Linked DNA regions of Homo sapiens: region 1 is linked to region 2. Evidence: fine-mapped expression QTL. A gene starts in region 2. The other region holds a variant in brackets. All regions are shown on one strand. Distances are between the middles of the regions. Region 1 overlaps SSR1 (signal sequence receptor subunit 1). Region 2 holds the start of SSR1 (signal sequence receptor subunit 1).

The links. PIP is the estimated chance that this variant, and not a neighbour inherited with it, causes the effect.
Region 1: its variant is fine-mapped to the expression of SSR1 in anterior cingulate cortex (GTEx, PIP 0.95).

What each region holds. Positions count from the first base shown.
Region 1 is chr6:7,277,743-7,286,278 of GRCh38, reverse strand. SSR1 (signal sequence receptor subunit 1) reads left to right here. Exons shown (of 8, transcript NM_003144.5): 8 at 1-5,136. Among named protein-coding and RNA genes, the nearest start is that of SSR1, 31 kb to the left of the region's middle. RefSeq lists a silencer at 4,337-4,537. The variant G/A (reference allele first, on the strand shown) is at 4,343.
Region 2 is chr6:7,308,551-7,317,830 of GRCh38, reverse strand. SSR1 (signal sequence receptor subunit 1) reads left to right here and starts at 4,632. Exons shown (of 8, transcript NM_003144.5): 1 at 4,632-4,789; 2 at 7,802-7,914. The coding sequence starts at 4,711. RefSeq lists enhancers at 4,257-4,316, 4,327-4,396, 3,733-4,599, 4,600-5,468 and silencers at 4,887-4,996, 5,127-5,176.

The sequences.
Region 1 (8,536 bases), 31 kb after region 2:
TCATCTGAGGTTCTAAGGTTTTTTTTTTAGATTTTGAAATTTAGGGATAATAGCTCTTAGGTTTGGGTACCACTTTGCTGCAGTTTAAGAAAGGGGGAAGGGAACTCATTTATTAAACATCAATCACGTGCTGTGTTCTGTTTGTTTTCTAGTCATCATATCACACACCTTTACGACAGCTCACTGAAGGAAGGTGATACTGTTCCCATTTTGTAGATGGAATAGACAAAACCTGAATTTAAGTAGCTTGCTCAAGGTTCCATATTGAATATGGAAAGTTCAAATCATCTCAGTAATGAATATACCATATATACTTGCTGTATTGTATCTATGATAATTCAGTTACCCACAATACCCTTTTAAATTTCTGTTAATGACATACCTTTAAATGTCTCCTTGATGAACAGAATCATGGTCTTTAAAAACATTTTCATGGGTTGATTGCATTTTCAAGCTCTAAAGGATTGAAAGATAAATCTTCACGTTAAAGGTAAGAGTGAAGTATCTGCTCTTGGGTTACAGAACCAGATAGTACTAGAACTAAGATTACAGGGTAAAGCTGCTTTTATCTTTTTTCTTTTTCTTTTTCTTTTTTTTTTTGACATGGGGTCTCACTGTATTGCCCAGGCTGGAATGCAGTGGCATGATCTCAGCTCACGGCAGCCTCTGCCTCTTGGGCTCAAGCGATTCTCCTGCTTCAGCTTTCCAAGTATTTGGGACCACAGGCGCACACCACAGGCCTGGCTAATGTTTTTGTTTTGTTTTTGGTAGAGACGGGGTTTCACCATGTTGCCAGGCTGGTCTCGAACTCCTGAGCTCAAGTGATTCACCCACCTTGGCCTCACAAAGTGTCAGGCTTACAGGCGTGAGCCACTGCGCCCGGCTCACAGGGTAAGGCTTCTGTCTGGTGTGTTGTATTACGGATTTTGCTTAATAGGCACAGTGAGGCATTAAAAAGAAAATTCAGTATGCCTGTAGAAAGGATAATCCTTGTTTAAAGTCTCCAAATTGCAGTCAAAGATGTTTTGACTGTGCCTTTTTTTGTTCCCCTGCTGTCCCTTATGTAGACTTCTGTCAGTACCCATGGCAGCCTGTCATCTTGTTGACATCTCCTTCTGGACTGTGAGCTCTGTATCTGGCTTGTTTTTCATCCCCAGCTTCTAGTTCACAATTAGGTAGAACCCTATTACTCTTTGAAGAAGGAACAAGAAAATGTGGGCCAGTTTTCATTTGCCATTCTTCCATGTGAGTTAGTATGGTTCGTAAGTATTCCTGGTGATACGCTAGTATTGGCAATTCTGTGAGGTTGAACAAAGGGGTGGTATGGTGTGCTAGCGTGGGAATTAGGAGACCTCTGGGTCTTGACAGTGCCCTGGCCACTAAGCAAAGGCAGTTCATCCTTGGAGTCTCAATGTGCTTTTTTGTTAATTGAGATATGCTTGAAGTATCAGCCCTAAATAGTCTGATTCTGTGACCTACAAACCCTTACTTAATTCAGTGTTACTATAAATGATTCTTCCCTTAAACCTACTTTTTACTTAGCAAAAGAGAAAAAAAAAAAAAGGAAACGCTCATGTCAGGCTGCCTGGGTTTGAACCCCAGATCCCCTCTTAGTTGGAGGCAAGTTGTATGATGCTTCAGCTTTTGGTTCCTGCCTCCTAAGGTTGTTAGGAGTTACTGTGTGTAGCTGCTTAGAACATTGCCTGGGTCTCAGTAAGCCGCTTAAGTGACTGCTCTCATTTTCGCTGTAAAGCACCATACTGTAATAACATCCCATGAAGCATGGGGCGGGGAAGAGTATATGGTACCTTATGGACTTTGATGTGGTGGGGTAGTAGGTAAATTCTGAATATGTAAGCTACATAGTATTCTTTTTGTAACTAAAGGATAAAAGTTTTAAGATGGGCATGTAATATGGCTAGCACTGGATTTTAATGATGAGCCAGAGTAATAAGGCTGGCAAGGGGAGTTTTTGTTTTGTAATAAATCTCTTACACCTGCACATCCAGTTCTTTTTAAAAACACGTTTGAAGAGGCTCCATATTTCTCAGTGAAGCTGTTGGGGTTCATGTTATTTTTGAAAATCATCTTGCAATTTATTTCAGCATCAGACTGAACCACCCAAAGAAAATTAGTCTATTTCTGAACAGTTTTTTCAGAAACCATATTGGTCTGATCACCCAACATTTATAGAAATAGGCGCTTAAGGCCTAGAGGCATTTCAGAAAGGAGAATGAGAAATACTGTGGTCAAGAGTAGTGTTCAGATGGAGAACATCAAGCATCTGCTCTGCCCTTCCACACACATCCTCATTTCATCTTCACAACTGCCCTAGGTAACCTTGTTATCTGTAATGAAACAGCCTCAAGGAGCACAGAGGCACTCACTCCTCACGTTTGGTCTGTTGCCATTTCCGGCTTGGTTGGAATAGGGTAGGAGCCTTTTGGCAGGGAGCACATTCTCAGTAATGCAGAGTGCACTCACCTGGGTTCTAGCTTCAACACTTAGGATTTGCTTGATATTTTGTATTCTCTGAGGCACTGCCTGTATTTGTTTCTGCTATCACAGTCCAGAGTCAAGCTTCATTTATAAAGACTGGGCAGGGCATGGTGGCTCACTCCTGTAATTCCAGCACTTTGGGAGGCTGAGGTGGGTGGATCACTTTAGGTCAGGAGTTCAAGACCAGCCTGGCCAACATGGTGAAACCCCATCTCTACTAAAAAATACAAAAAGGCCGGGCACGGTGGCTCACACCTGTAATCCCAACACTTTGGGAGGCCAAGGTGGGCAGAACACCTGAGGTCAGGAGTTCAAGACCATCCTGGCGAACATAGTGAAACCTCGCCTCTACTAAAAATACAAAAATTAGCCAGGTGTGGTGGTGCATGCCTGTAATCCCAGCTACTTGGGAGGCTGAGGCAGGAGAATTGCTTAAACCTGGGAGGTGGAGATTGTGGTGAGCTGAGATCGTGCCACTGCACTCCAGCCTGGGAGATAGAACGAGACTCCATCTCAAAAAAGAACAAAAACAATTAGCCGAGCGAGGTGGTGCACGCCTGTAATCCCAGCTACTCATGAGGCTGAGGCAGGAGAATCACTTGAACCCAGGAGGAGGAGGTTGTAGTGAGTCAAGGTTGCACCACTGCACTCCAGCCTGGGTGACAGAGTGAGACTGTCTCAAAAAATAAGTACATAAATAATAAGTAAAAGCTACTAACAATTAAAAAATAAATAAATAAAGACAAGACTGTCTGGAAAATGGCTCTCCTAAAAGGACCAGTTGCCATCATCCACAGTGGAAGATTCAAAGCAGTTGGTCCTTGGTACGTATGAGAAGCGGATTTCATTCCCTTGAATTCTACAGAGCAGTTTATTAGAGTGAATGCATTTTAAGGCCTTGCATTTGATATGTCATCCAGTTCATAATCAAGTTGCCTTTTTCTGGCTAAAACATAATGATTATGTATTTTTCTCATTTGGTCCTACAAGCTGCTGGCCCTTTGTCCCTCCACTGTGGGAATCAGATCTAGAGGAGGCTGAGCCTGCAGACACAGCAGTGGCCAAAAGGTCACTCTAAGTGTTTTGTCTTGACTCCTTACTTGAAGTCCACCCAGCTAGCACACATCTGGTTTATACTGAAGCCCCCTGCCTAGAAATACTCATTTCAGGAACCACCAGTAAGCATCTGTGACCACACAGGCTTTTTGACTGATGGCTTCCCGGATCTGGTTTCAAGGGATAACCCCGTCTGTGTGCATCTATGGTCTTCTCTCTACAGCGAGGACTTTGCAGTGCTGCTTGTGGTCCACACAAGGGGCTCAGAGCTGAGTCTGAACTGCTTCATGGTCACCAGCTCCTGTCCCTTCCAGTCTTGAGAGGCTTTTTTCTCCAGATGGAACCTTTCCTTCCCGCCGTTTTCTCGGTCTCTGGCTGTTTTTCTCTTGTGCCCGTCTAATTGGACACCTCCTGGCTTCCATCTCTGTGGTTCTCCTGCCTCACTTCCTGTTCTGTTGTTTTTCCGTTTTGTCAAAATATCTCCTATGTTCTTGGCTTCCTTTTCGTCGCCAGGTTTTCAGCTTTCCTTTAGCTCTTCTTCTAATATGGCTTCTGCCCACAAAAGCCTGCTCTGTCAGGATCTCATGGTTCTCCACTTGCCAGAACCTTCTTCAGCCTCAGTTCCTCGGCCTCAACTTGTACGTTTAACCCATTGACCACCACCCCCCAAATTCACCTTCATTTCTTTGACCCTGCTCCTCACTCCTTTTCTGTTGAGGAATCTGTTGACTAACTCCAGGCTCACTCAGGCTCACCGTCCTGCTCTCTGCACCAGCCTTTCCAGAGC[G/A]TGCCAGTTCTCATGGCTTCATCTGTTAACTGTTGATCACTTCAGTCCTGATTTTTAGACCTAAATGGTTTCCTTAACGCCATTCTAACTGCCTGTGACTCATTTTCACTTACAGTGTTTATTGTAACGCCAAACCAACAAATCACAGGTGCTTGCTTCTCTCCATAAATCTCCCCAGTCTAACTTTTTGTCATTCAACATGACTCGTTTATCCAACCTGAAATCGCATATAGCCCCAAGTATGGTGTTTTGTACACAGGTATTTAATAAGTGACTTCCAGTTTTGGCTCTGCTATGAATAAAAAGAGATTTCAGTTCTCTTCACTTTGAAATCTAACAACTCAGAGAACATTGAAGAAATTGGAATTTAGTTGGGATGAAATACTTGTGGTTTAAAATATTTCTGTTCATATTTTCTAATTTGTTGCCGGAGGTCTTGGGTTTTCTATTTGAGTGCTTGCAAACTCAATGTGATTTCTGTCAGCATATCTTAGGTTTGTTTGTTATGAAACTTATGCAGTGTGAGGTTCTATCTGAAAATGTTATTTAGCTATCTTCTGGGACTATTTAATGAAAGTGGGGTCATGAATCCTTAAAATTCTTGTGCAGCTTTGAGAAACATTTCTGTTATTTGGGTATCAGTTTGTAAGTGTGGTAAAGCCAAGATGGAAACGAGCACTTTGCTTTCTTGGTTGTTGTTACTGGTCTAACCTCCTGCTTGAACTAGTCTGCTGTCCTGTCAAATGCATCTTTTTATTTACATGTCCCTTAAATTAAAGCTGATCATGAAAGTATTTGTGTGCAACATGAAATGTTTTCTAAAGTACCAGTGCATATTCCTGCTTGGTCTCAAGACGCACGAGGAATCCAAAATAGAAGCAAAAAAAGAAAAGAAAAAAAATCACAATTTTGATCGGAATGTCCTCCTGGAAATTATTTAAAAGTTTGGCCGGGCACGGTGGCTCACGCCTGTAATCCCAGCACTTTGGGAGGCTGAGGTGGATGGATCACAAGGTCAGGAGTTCAAGACTACCTTGACCAATATGGTGAAACCTCGTCTCTACTAAAAATACAAAAATTAGCTGGGCGTGGTGGCACGCGCCTGTAATCCCAGCTACTCATGAGGCTGAGGCAGGAGAATCACTTGAACCCGGGAGGCAGAGGTTGCAGTAAGCTGAGATCACGCCACTGCACTTCAGCCTGGGTGCTTCCGTCTCAAAAAAAAAAAAGTTCACACATTTTTAGACATTTCAGTGATGTTTTAGAATAAAGGTGATTTAAGATTGGTTTTACAGGCACTCTTGGGCTGTCAGCTAGTTGGCTTTTCAGATGATGATCATAAAGACACTCCCCCTCACGCAGGTATATGAGTAAGTAAGGTCTACCCCATCCACACTCCCATACTGACTTTCCATTCCCAATAATTGCACAGACTGCATACTCTGATCGCTTATTAAACATTTCTAAGGAAGCCGAGATGGATCTTTGATGTAATTTTCTCATCTGTATACCCAGCCAGTAAGTCAGTAGCACCTAAGATTTCTTTCCCTTCAAGATTGTATTCTAAGCAGTAGAATTAAAGTGTTCTTCATAGAAAAAGTAACTTTTAATTAGAGGCTGTGCAAACTCTGGAGAATCAGTCTTTGTTACCAGATAATAATGTTTTTAGCTTTTTCTGCTGAGAGGAAAAAATGCTTTGAAGAATAAAAAATACTAGAGCATAACAAGCTTGGGGAGTTAGGAAAAAATATATTAGGGCAGTAAGAACCAGCATTACGTCTTCTCTGCAATGCTTGAAACATTCAGTATTAAACTTTGGATTAATCCAAAGTCTGAAGAGAAATACACCAAAATGCTAAAGCCGTTTTTGGTTAGGATAGTGGACTTTTTTTTTCTTCTTCAGAATGTTTGTAATGAGCCTATATTTTATAATGGAAGCAATAAATGCAAATGTGAAATTTATCTGAGCCTCCTACAATGAGTATAATAAATCCAGTGGTTGTGGATAGCTTATTTGTGGCCCCAAAAGAAACGGAGCCACTTTTTAAAACTTGGATGCATTGTCACTACATAGTGAAAGAAAATCAAGATATTCTTTTTTTTTTTTTTTTAAACGGTGTCTCACTCTGTTGCGCAGCTGGAGTGCAATGGCGCAATCTTGGCTCACTGCAACCTCCGCCTCCCGGGTTCAAGCGATTATTCTGCCTCAGCTTCCTTAGTAGCTGGTATTACAGGAATGTGCCACCACGCCCAGCTAATTTTTGTATTTTTAATAGAGACGGGGTTTCACCATGTTGGTCAGGCTGGTTTTGAACTCCCAACCTCAGATGATCCACCTGCCTAGGCCTCCCAAAGTGCTGGGATTACAGGTGTGAGCCACCGCGCCCAGCCCAAGATAAGAGTCTTTTTTTGTTTTTGTTTTTTTGACACAGAGTCTTGCTCTGTCATCCAGGCTGGAGTGCAGTGGCGTGATCTCGGTTCACTGCAAGCTCCGCCTCCCGGGTTCACCCCATTCTCCTGTCTCAGCCTCCCGAGTAGCTGGGACTACAGGTGCCCGCCACCACACCCGCCTAATTTTTTGTATTTTTAGTAGAGACGGGGTTTCACCGTGTTAGCCAGGATGGTCTCGATCTCCTGACCTCGTGATCCACCCACCTTGGCCCCCCAAAGTGCTGGGATTACAGGCGTGAGCCACCGCACCCGGCCCCAAGATAGATTCTTAATAGAAAACCCTTGAAAGTATTTCTCCTTTTCAGGGACTCAGCCTTTCTCTTTGCTGTTTGTAAAAACATGAGCTCCTCTCTGCTGCCGAGTTGGTGCCAGGCCAGTGCTCAGTGCAGCCACTCCTGCCCCACCCCCTTGCCTCTCGGGCTTTATGCCCACAAGAGTCCAAGCCACTCTATCAGATCCTGACTCTTCTCTTCTGGAAACTCTCCTCTGGCTTCCACTGGCATCTAGGTGAGCACAAGTGCTCCACCACTGCCTGCAGGGCTCTCCAGTATCTCGCCCTCCCTGCCTTGCCCCTTCCTGTGCTGCCCTCCAGGCTTCCTGGCCAGCCACCTCCTCATCTTCTACCCTGCCAGGCTTGTCCAGGATCAGGGCCTTGGCAGTAATCCCCTCTGCCCAGGTCTCAGCCCCCATCTTCCCTGCTCTTAGTCTTCCTGAAAACTCCCCTCATGGAAGGCCCCACACACCCTGCTCTGTTCTCATTATCTTCACCACTATCAGAAGTTACCTTGGGCTGGCCGCAGTGGCTCACACCTGTAATCCCAGCACTTTGGGAGGCTGAGGTGGGCAGATCACTTGAGGTCAGGAGTTCGAGACCAACCTGGCCAACATGGTGAAACCCTGTGTCTACTAAAAATACAAAAATTAGCCAGGTGTGGCGCGCACCTGTAATCCCAGCTACTTGGAAAGCTGAGGCAGGAGAATCACTTGAACCCGGGAGGCAGAGGTTGCAGTGAGCCGAGATCATGCCACTGCACTGCAGCCTGGGCGACAGAGCAAGTCTCTCTGTCTCTCAGCCTGGGCGACAGAGCGAGACAGACTCTCTCTCTCTCTCTCTCTCTCTCTCTCACACACACACACACACACACACACACACACAGAAGTTACCTTGTCCTTCCATTGCCCATCACCCCTTGTGAATGTAAGCTTATGACAGCAAGAATTTTGTCACCAGCTCACCAAGTCTTAAAACAGGACCTGACACACGTGGTAGGTGTTTCATGTGAATTATTTATCACACTGTGAAGTAGGTGTATCTCCATTTTGCAAATAAGGAAATTGAACACAGGTTAAATTAACTTGCCAGAAATTCCACAACCGTTAAGTGGCAGAGCTGGACACAGGTTTGTGTGTCCTGTTCACAAATGCGTGCATCTCTGGCTGGGAACTTGCAGGGTTATGGATCAGACTGCTCCACCTTGAGAAGTGGAAATGGCATCTTGGTTGTACATTGCAGCTCAAACCAGGAAGCATTTACTAAAACAAAAACTTAACAGAAACTGGCAAGCAAGTGCATAGGCGTTGCTATAGATGGTTTCTGTGAAATTCCATTAGGTGAGTTCCATAAAGGGAAGTGAAACAATAGATCACAGCTGTAGCTTCAAAATAAAAAGTTGGTTCCTAAATTGAGTGAATTGTAATCTTAACTATTTTCTCCTTAAACGCATAATGACAAAGTTACCAAAT
Region 2 (9,280 bases):
GAGTAGGCACACTTTATTTTTCCTGTTGTACCAATAGTAGCTGGTTGTGTAAAATTCAAGTCCCAAATAAAATCCGATAGTAATCGATTGATGACATCATCATTGGAGTGGAAGTCACAGGTTAAGCCTAAACTAAATTATCCTTACATGTTCAGGCTACGTCTAAACATCTGAGAACCGGTGAGACAGACCTACTAGGAATCTCTTTACCATAAAGAATGAGACGTCGTCCCCTTCAGTAATCAGTCCTCTGAATGGGGAAAGCAAGCCAGTAAGACACGGTGGTGCCGTGATGGAGAGCAGGTGTGATTTTGAGTACAGCATGAAGTCTGTAACTTCACCATCTATTACAGTTCCCATCAATTGTTTTTGGTGTTAGGAGAGAGTAGCAAGTTAAACAGAAAGATGTATTTGTCAAAACACCTGTCAGACATCAACAAGCTCAGAGCAGGTCTCATTTGAAACTCATGAAAGGGTGCCTCAAAGTAGGGGAGGGAGATTATGCTGAGTCAGTGGAGAACTCTGTAAGGTACAGTCACCTCAAAGCAGGGACAGCGTGCTGGCAGTCCTTGCTCGCTCTGGGGGCCTCCTCGGCCTTGGCGCCCACTCCAGCAGCGCTTGAGGAGCCCTTCAGCCCGCCGCTGCACTGTGGGAGCCCCTTTCTGGGCTGGCCAAGGCCAGAAGCGGCTCCCTCAGCTTGCGGGGAGGTGTGGAGGGAGAGGCGCGGGCGGGAACCAGGGCTGCGCGCGGCGCTTGTGGGCCAGCGCGAGTTCCGGGTGGGCGTGGGCTTGGCGGGCCCCGCACTCGGAGCGGCCAGCGGGTCCGGGCAGTGAAGGGCTTAGCACCTGGGCCAGCAGCTGCTGTGCTCTATGTCTCGCTAGGCCTTACCTGCTCCGCCGTGGGGCAAGGCTCGGGACCTGCAGCCTACCATGCCTGAGCCTCCCCGACGAGCGCCACCCCCAGCTCCACAGCGCCCAGTCCCATCGACCACCCAAGGGCTGAGGAGTGCTGGCGCACCGCGCGGGACTCGCAGGCAGCTCCACCTGCAGCCCCGGTGTGGGATCCACTGGGTGAAACCAGCTGGGCTCCTGAATCTAGTGGAGATTTAGAGAATCTTTCTGCCTAGCTGAGGGATTATAAACACACCAATCAGCACTCTGTATCTAACTCAAGGTTTATAAACACACCAATCAGCACACTGTATCTAGCTCAGGGTTTGTGAATGCACCAATTGGCACTCTAATCTGGTGGGGATTTGGAGAATGTCTAACTAAGGGATTGTGAATGTACCAATCAGCACTGTGTCTAGCCCAGGGTTTGTGAACACACCAATTGACACTCTGTGTATAGCTAACCCAGTGGGGACATGGAGAACTTTGTGTCTAGCTCACCAATTGAAAACACACCAATCAGCTCTAAAATAAACCAACCAGCAGAATGTGAAGCCAAATAAACGGAAAAAAAAGCAGGCTGCCTGAATCAGTGGCAACCTGCTCAGGTCCCACTCCAGTGTCCAGAATTGGGGGCTCATTAGCCTCCCTGACTTAAAGAATGAAGCTACAGACCCTCACAGTGAGTACTACAGTTCTTAAAGGCAGTGTATCCGGAGTTTCTTCCTTCTGGTGGGCTTGTAATCTCACTAGCCCAAGAGTAAACCCACAGACCTCCACAGTGAGCGTTACAGCTCTTAAGGTGGCATATCTTGAGTTATTCATTCTTCCTGGCGGGTTCGTGATTTCCCTAGCTTCAGGAGCGAAGCTGCAGACCTTCATAATGAGTGTTATAACTCATAAAGGCAATATGAGCTTAAAGAGCAAAAGAACAGATATTTTCCCAGCATGGAAAGAAACTGGAGCCTGTTGTCGCTGCTAAGCTCAGGGCAGCCTGCTTTTATTCTTATCTGGCCCCACCCACACCCTGCTGATTGGTAGAGCCGAGTGGCCTGTTTTGACTGGGCACTGATTGGTGCGTTTACAATCCCTGAGCTAGACACAAAGGTTCTCCACGTCCCCACTAGATTAGCTAGATACAGAGCGTGGACGCAAAGGTTCTCCAAGGTCCCACCAGAGTAGCTAGATACAAAGTGTCGATTGGTGCATTCACAAAGCCTGAGCTAGACACAGGGTGCTGATTGGTGTGTTTACAATCCCTGAGCTAGACATAAAGGTTCTCCACGTCTCCACCAGACTCAGAAGCCCAGCTGGCTTCACCCCGTGGAACCCGTACTGGGGCTGCAGGTGGAGCTGTCTGCCAGTCCCATGCCTGTGCACCTGTACTGATCAGCCCTTGGGTGGTGGAAGGAACTGGGCACCGTGCAGCAGGGGGTGGCGCTGGTCGGGGAGATTCCGGCTGCACAGAAGCCCATGGGGTTGGGGGAGGCTCAGACATGGTGGGCTGCAGGTCCCGAGCCCTGCCCCGCGGGAAGGCAGCTAAGGCCCGGTGAGAAATCGAGCACAGCAGCTGCTGGCCCAGGTTCTAAGCCCCTCACTGCCCCCCGCCTGGCCCAGTTGGCCGCTCCCACTGCAGGGCCCGCCAAGCCCACGCCCACCCGGAACTCGCACTGGCTGGCAAGCACCGCGCGTAACCCCAGTTCCCGCCCGCCCACGCCTCTCTCCACACCTTCCCGGCAAGCTGAGGGAGCTGGCTCCGGCCTTGGCCAGCCCAGAAAGGGGCTCCCACAGTGCAGCGGTGGGCTGAAGAGCTCCTCAAGTGCCACCAAAGTGGGGGCCCAGGCAGAGGAGGCGCCGAGAGCGAGCGAGGGCTGAGTACTGCCAGCATGCTGTCACCTCTCAGAAGCTTTGTTTTTTGCAATAAATCTTGCTGCTGCTCACTGCCTTTATGAGCTGTAACACTCACCGCGAAGGTCTGCAGCTTCACTCCTAAAGCCACCGAGACTATGAACCCACCAGGAGGAATGGACACCTTAACAGCTGTAACACTCACTGCGATGGTCTAGTAGCTTCACTCCTGAGCCAGTGAGACCATGAACCCACCAGAAGGAAGAAACTCGGAACACATCCGAACATGATGAAGGAACAAACTCTGGACTTTAAGAACTGTAACACTCAGCACGAGGGTCTGCGGTTTCAGTCTTAAAGTCAGTGAGACCAAGAACCCTATTCCAGACACAGCTCTGACATAGAGTGGCAACACTGGTAGCGTGCACAGGAGCAGAGGCAGCAGCAAAGTGAGAGGAGGCCCTCCACTTATGCTGGGCGCCCTAGTAGCAGCAGCAACACAGCAGCGGTGCCACTGGTGGCCTGGCAGAGTGGAATTTGGTTGATTCAGCCCAGCACCATCAGGCTGTGACTTTAGCAGACTGTAGGTAGTGGTGGCAGTGGGTCCAAGCTGCATTTACAGCCCCCAGGACAAGGAGACCTGAAGCGGAAACAATGCAGGAGTAGAACAGCAAATGTCCTAGGTCAGTAGTGTATGGAATCTGGAACCAGATAGCCTTGTTCAAATCTTGCATCTGCCGTTTGCTAGCGTTTTGAAGCTTTGAGTAAATTACTAACCTCTCTGGGTCTGTTTTCTCCTCAGTAAATAATATCCAGCTCATAGAGAGGTTTAGAAAATTAAATGAAAAAGCACAGCTCTAAGGAGGTGATTGACAATAGTAAGCATATGATTTATTTCCTCATCTTTATGACATCTCACTCTGGTCCAGACCAAGATTACTTAATATTCAGATTAATTTCATGAACTGCTATATTACTCCAGCAACTCAAATCCAAAATAGATGAAAAGGAAACTAAAGAAAACTGGACAGCCATTGCTGCACCTATTGTATAGTTACAAATGCTGACTACATACCAAAACACTGTTTAGGTGACTTATAATTCTGGAATGTCACATACGAATTTAAGAATTGCTGGCCAGGCGCAGTGGCTCACACCTGTAATCCCAGCACTTTGAGAGACCCAGGCGGGTGGATCACCTGAGGTCAGGAGTTTGAGATTAGTCTGGCCAACATGGTGAAACCCCCGTCTCCAGTAAAAATACAAAAATTAGCCGGGCGTAGTGGTGCGCGCCTGTAGTCCCAGCTGCTTAGGAGGCTGAGGCGGGAGAATCGCTTGAACCCGGGAGGCGGAGGTTGCGGTGAACAGAGATGGTGCCACTGAACTCTGGCCTGGGCGACAGAGCAAGACTTCGTCTCAAAAATAATAATTTAAGAATTGTCATTACTTAACCATGGGAGAGGGTGTGGGCAGACAGGGGACAAAGATTTTCCACTGTGTATTTTCATGGTTTTTCCTTTGAACAATGTCCTCTCTTCCAACAAAATTTTTTGCTTTTAAGTGCCACATAAAGGCAGCTCATGTTCCTTACATCGCCGTTATCAAGAGGATCGTCATTCAAATAAAGTAACCACTGACAATGCTAATTAATTGGAAGTAAAGAACTGGGCGGAAAGAACGGCTAACCGCAAGCTGCCGGGTCGCAACTGCGGCGGAAGGCGGACTCTCGCGGGAGCCACAAAGAGGCAGCAGCCGGCCACGTGACTTCCCGGTGGCCTGCTCTCCCCACCTCTCCGCGCTGAGCAGCCACGTCGGCGGCGGTCCCTGGTCCAGGGAGGGGCGTGGCAAAGGCCCGTGCGCGGTACGTGTCCCGCCCCTCGCTGCCCGGAGCCCGGATGAAGAGTAACGCCATTACCGCCGGAGCCGCCGAGAGCCTTAGCCGACGGAAACTGGACACTGGACCGGCAGCGCCATGAGACTCCTCCCCCGCTTGCTGCTGCTTCTCTTACTCGTGTTCCCTGCCACTGTCTTGTTCCGAGGCGGCCCCAGAGGTGAGGCTGGGGGAGTGTGCGGAGGGGATGGCCAGGAAGGAGATGCCAGTGATGGCAAGTTTGAAGTTGGAGGCGGTGGCCGCTCCGGGTCCTGGGGTCCGCGTCCACCCCGCTGGCCTCTCTCCGCCCTCTCCCCAAGCCTAGGCTCGTAGCAGCAGGGGTCCCCGCGGGCGCTGGAGACCCCGCTGCGGCCTGCCCCTTGCACGCGGAGCGCGGGGCCGTGCCCGGGCGACCTTGCTTCGTGGCCGGCCGAGGGCTGGGCTTGCTCCTCTTGCCCTGGACCCTCGCCTGCAGGAGCGGCCAGAACTGGAGGGTCCTCGGCTGCAGGAGGAGGCGCTGGACACGGCTGCGCTCCGAGCGCGCCGCAGCCGGGCTGTTTCTTTTGGCCACCTCCGGCTCCGCTCCACCCCCAGCCCCTCGCGCTCAGGGCTGACGTGTCTTTAGCTTCCACGCCGGGAGTCCGTCTTCATTCATTTGCCAAAACCCTTGTTTTCTACACATCTAAGCCATCAGAGTGTCTTGTTCAATGGTCATCTGCCTTGTTCACGCCCTGCTTGACCCGTATGTGTTACTAGGAGGCTTGATTTCAGAAAAACTACCCCATCGTCACCCCCGTTATCCGCCCCTGCTGCCAAGCAGACTGAAGAATCCCTGTGGGATGTCTCCCTTCTGCCTTCTTCCTCTTCTTGTCTTTCCATGGAACAATTTTTTGTTTGTGGAAACATCGTATTGTGCTGAAAAAATGTGGCCTACTTCGAGTGTTTTTAATACATAGATTTATTCTTTCAACAATTAACCCAGCAATTAAGTGTGAAAATAACTTAGCAGAATATAAAAATATGGCAACTTGACTTCCTGCACAGGTTTTGTCGTGAACTTCGACTTTCTAATTTGTAAAGTGAAATAATTAGTCTGACTAAGCATCCCTTTCATTCTGTAAGTTTAAGCAAGCTGTGTGTCTTAACGGTAGTGACAGGTATTCACGAGTTGTTTTGCGATGAAAAGTGAAGTGACTGGCTTCTGTTTAATGGCTAGAAAACCAAGTGGGAGAATTAAACAACTGTTAATGAGTTAATCTGCAGGTTTAACAAGATTTTTTACTTTAGGAGTCGTTTGCTGGTACTCTTTAAGCTTTTTAAAAGAAAACTTGACAAATGTAGTTTTAGTTTTAGAACTATTTATAACTATTTTCAAGTTATAAAAACTTTCAAGAAGCATGAATTCATTATCTAAACTGAATTAATATCTTGTAAACATTTTTTGTGAGAAACGGTTTTTGTGTTTGGTTTTTCCAGTTGAATGAAGACTGTTAGACTTCATGGGGACAAAATTGTTATTGGTTAACATTAAAATAATAAAATTGTTTAATATTTATGAAAGGCCTTTATATTCCAAAGTGCTCAAATTTAACCACGACTTTAAATTACTATATCAGACATGGTATTTTTCTTACTGGTTTTTGAAAAGGACTTGTAAGTTATGAATGCACTATTTTAGGCTTTGTTCAGCAGGCAGTGAAATCTCTTTAGTTCATAATGCATGGTTCAGTGTTCTTTAATATTTTGCAATAAATCTTAGCAGCCAGTGAGAACTTAAAGACATGGAAAAGACTGCAAATGCATGGTCCTTAACTGTTTCTCCTGGGTGAAAACACGCTTCCCTTCCCATGTTTTTTATCCACAGAATTGCCACATCATCATTTTTTCTGAGAGATGTTGGAAGACACTAGAACTTTGAAATTCTTTTTATGGTCTTGCCTGAAATAGATATAATGTGACTTACTTAGAGTACTATTGTCTATAAAACTGTGATTCACCTTTTTTTTGCATTATACCTGTACTTTGTAACACTAAGTTTGAGAAAAAATATCTTAAAACATGTTTGAAGCCACATGCAAAAATAATTGGATTCTTTCTTTGCTATCAAACCTGAAGCTACCAATACAGTTTTTACTAAACAATGTTTTTCATGCAAGCCAGTTTTTACCATGGATATGATTACAGATATTTGTTCCTTGGCTTACAAACTATCCAGTTCTAAGAGTTTCAGCTGTAGTCACCTCTGATAACAGTGTTTCCTACATAGAACATTAGAACTTAAGAATGCTTTATTTTTTTATTTTTATTTTTTTGAGACGGTGTCTTGCTGTGTCGCCCAGGCTGGAGTGCAGTGGTACAATCTTGGCTCACTGCAACTTCTGCCTCCTGGGTTCAAGCGATTCTCCTGCCTCAGCCTCTGGAGTAGCTGGAACCACAGGTGTGTGCCACCACACCCAGCTAATTTTTGCATTTTCAGTAGAGGCGGGGTTTCTCTGTATTGGCCAGGCTGGTCTTGAACTCCTGGCCTCAAGTAATTCACCCTCCTCAGCCTTCTAAAGTGCTGGGATTACAGGCGTGAGCCACCGCGCCGGCCAAGAATGCTGTTTTCTTTTAAACGTGGGGGTTGTTTAGTTTGCTTTGTATGGTTAATGACAGGGATTACATTTAGAAGTTTCTTATCTTTGCAAAAAATTATTTTCCTTAATTTGCTTAACAAAGTTGCTTGAAGTTCTTTGTGCTTCAAGGCATCTTTAGTTTGTGCCATTCATTTTTCCATCTGTTGGGCACTTTTTGAAGTTAAACCACATTTCCCATTAAAAATAACATGGAAGGCAGGGAACAGTGGTTCACGCCTCTAGTCCTAGCTACCCAGGAAGCTGAGGTGGAAGGATCACTTGGGCCCAGGAGTTTGAGGCTGCAGTGAGCTATGACTGCACAACTGTACTCCCAACCTAGGCATCAGAGCAAGACCCTGACTCTTAAAAAAAAAAAAAAAAAATTGATATGCAGTTGTTAAGACTACTAGTAAACTAAAATATAAATATTCTTCGGTGCATTGTAATTGGCATCATTCAGGTGAACTGGGAGATTCTGTTAGTCCAAGGGAAGTTTTTTTTGCCTATACCTGATGTTAAAAAAAGAAATTAGTATTTCAGAGTAAAGGGTAACTGCTTTTTCTGTATTTTATCATTAGGCTTGTTAGCAGTGGCACAAGATCTTACAGAGGATGAAGAAACAGTAGAAGATTCCATAATTGAGGATGAAGATGATGAAGCCGAGGTAGAAGAAGATGAACCCACAGATTTGGTTAGTGTTACATACTATTTAATATATGTAAAATGTATGTAATTGTATTCATCTGTTCTCATGCTGCTAATAAAGACATACCCAAGACTGGGTAATTTATAAAGGAAAAAGGTTTCATTGACCCACAGTTCAGCATGACTGGGGAGGCCTCAGGAAACTTACCATCATGGCAGAAATTGAAGCAAACATGTCCTTCTTCACAAGGTGACAGCAAGGAGAAGTGCAGAGCAAAGGGTGGGGAAAGCCCCTTATAAAAACCATCAGATCTTGTGAGAACTCACTTTCACGAGAACAGCATGGAGGTAACCGTCCCCGTGATTCATTTACCTCCCACCAGGTTCCTCCCACGATGTGCAGATTATGGGAACTACACTTCAAGATGAGATTTGGTTGGGGACACAGCAAAACCGTTATCAATAGTACATCTAGAATTTATCCTTACTTATTTATTTTTAGAGACAGAGACTTGCTCTGTTCCCCAGGCTGGAGTGCAGTGGCACGAGCATAGCTCACTGCAGCCTCGAACTCCTGGGCTCAAGTGATCCTCTTGCCTCAGCCTCCTGAGTAGCTAGGACTACCGTCATGCCCCAACAAGCCCGGCTAATTTTTGTAATTTTTTTTTGTAGAGACAGGGTCTTGCTATGTTGCCCAGGCTAGTCTAAAACTTCTGGGCTCAAGTGATGATCCTCATGCCTCGGACTCTGAAGGCACTGGGATTATGGGCATGAGCCACCACACCTGGCCTAGAGCTTATCCTTATACAAAAATTTAAAATCCCAACTTTTAGAGGTTTGTTAATGTGATCAAAGTGAATTGAAGTTGGGAGAATAGGCACCAGTCATTGAGAACAGAGCATAAGTATTTTCTGGAACAGGGAAGGAGACATGAAATAGTTAACAATTCAGGATCGTGGTGACATGAGTCTAGAAGGGTAACAACATAGTAGAAATAGCACTGGACCTCATGGTTTCATAGATTTGGAATACCTGCTGCTTCCTTTTCTGACTTATCTCTGTGGGTCTCAGTTTCTTTTTCGCTTGCTTGCTTTTACTCTGTTTTTATTCTTTTTGCTTGCTTGTTGTATTTCTGAATCCTTATGTGCCAGGCACTGTTCTTGGTGCTGGGTGGGCAAACCAGATATTTTCTCTGCTCTTTCAGACTTTTTTTTGGGGCAGTTATATGTGTTTTAATGGCAGGGGGTGAGAAGCAGACAACAAACAGTATGTAAAATATATCTGGTGAAGAATAAGGGGGTTAGAGAAGATCTCTTAAAAGTTGTTCAGCTCTGAAATGTTTACTATGTAATACAACAGTAAGAATATTGGGCTGGAATTGGGATCATTGCAGCATGCATCTAGTTAATTTT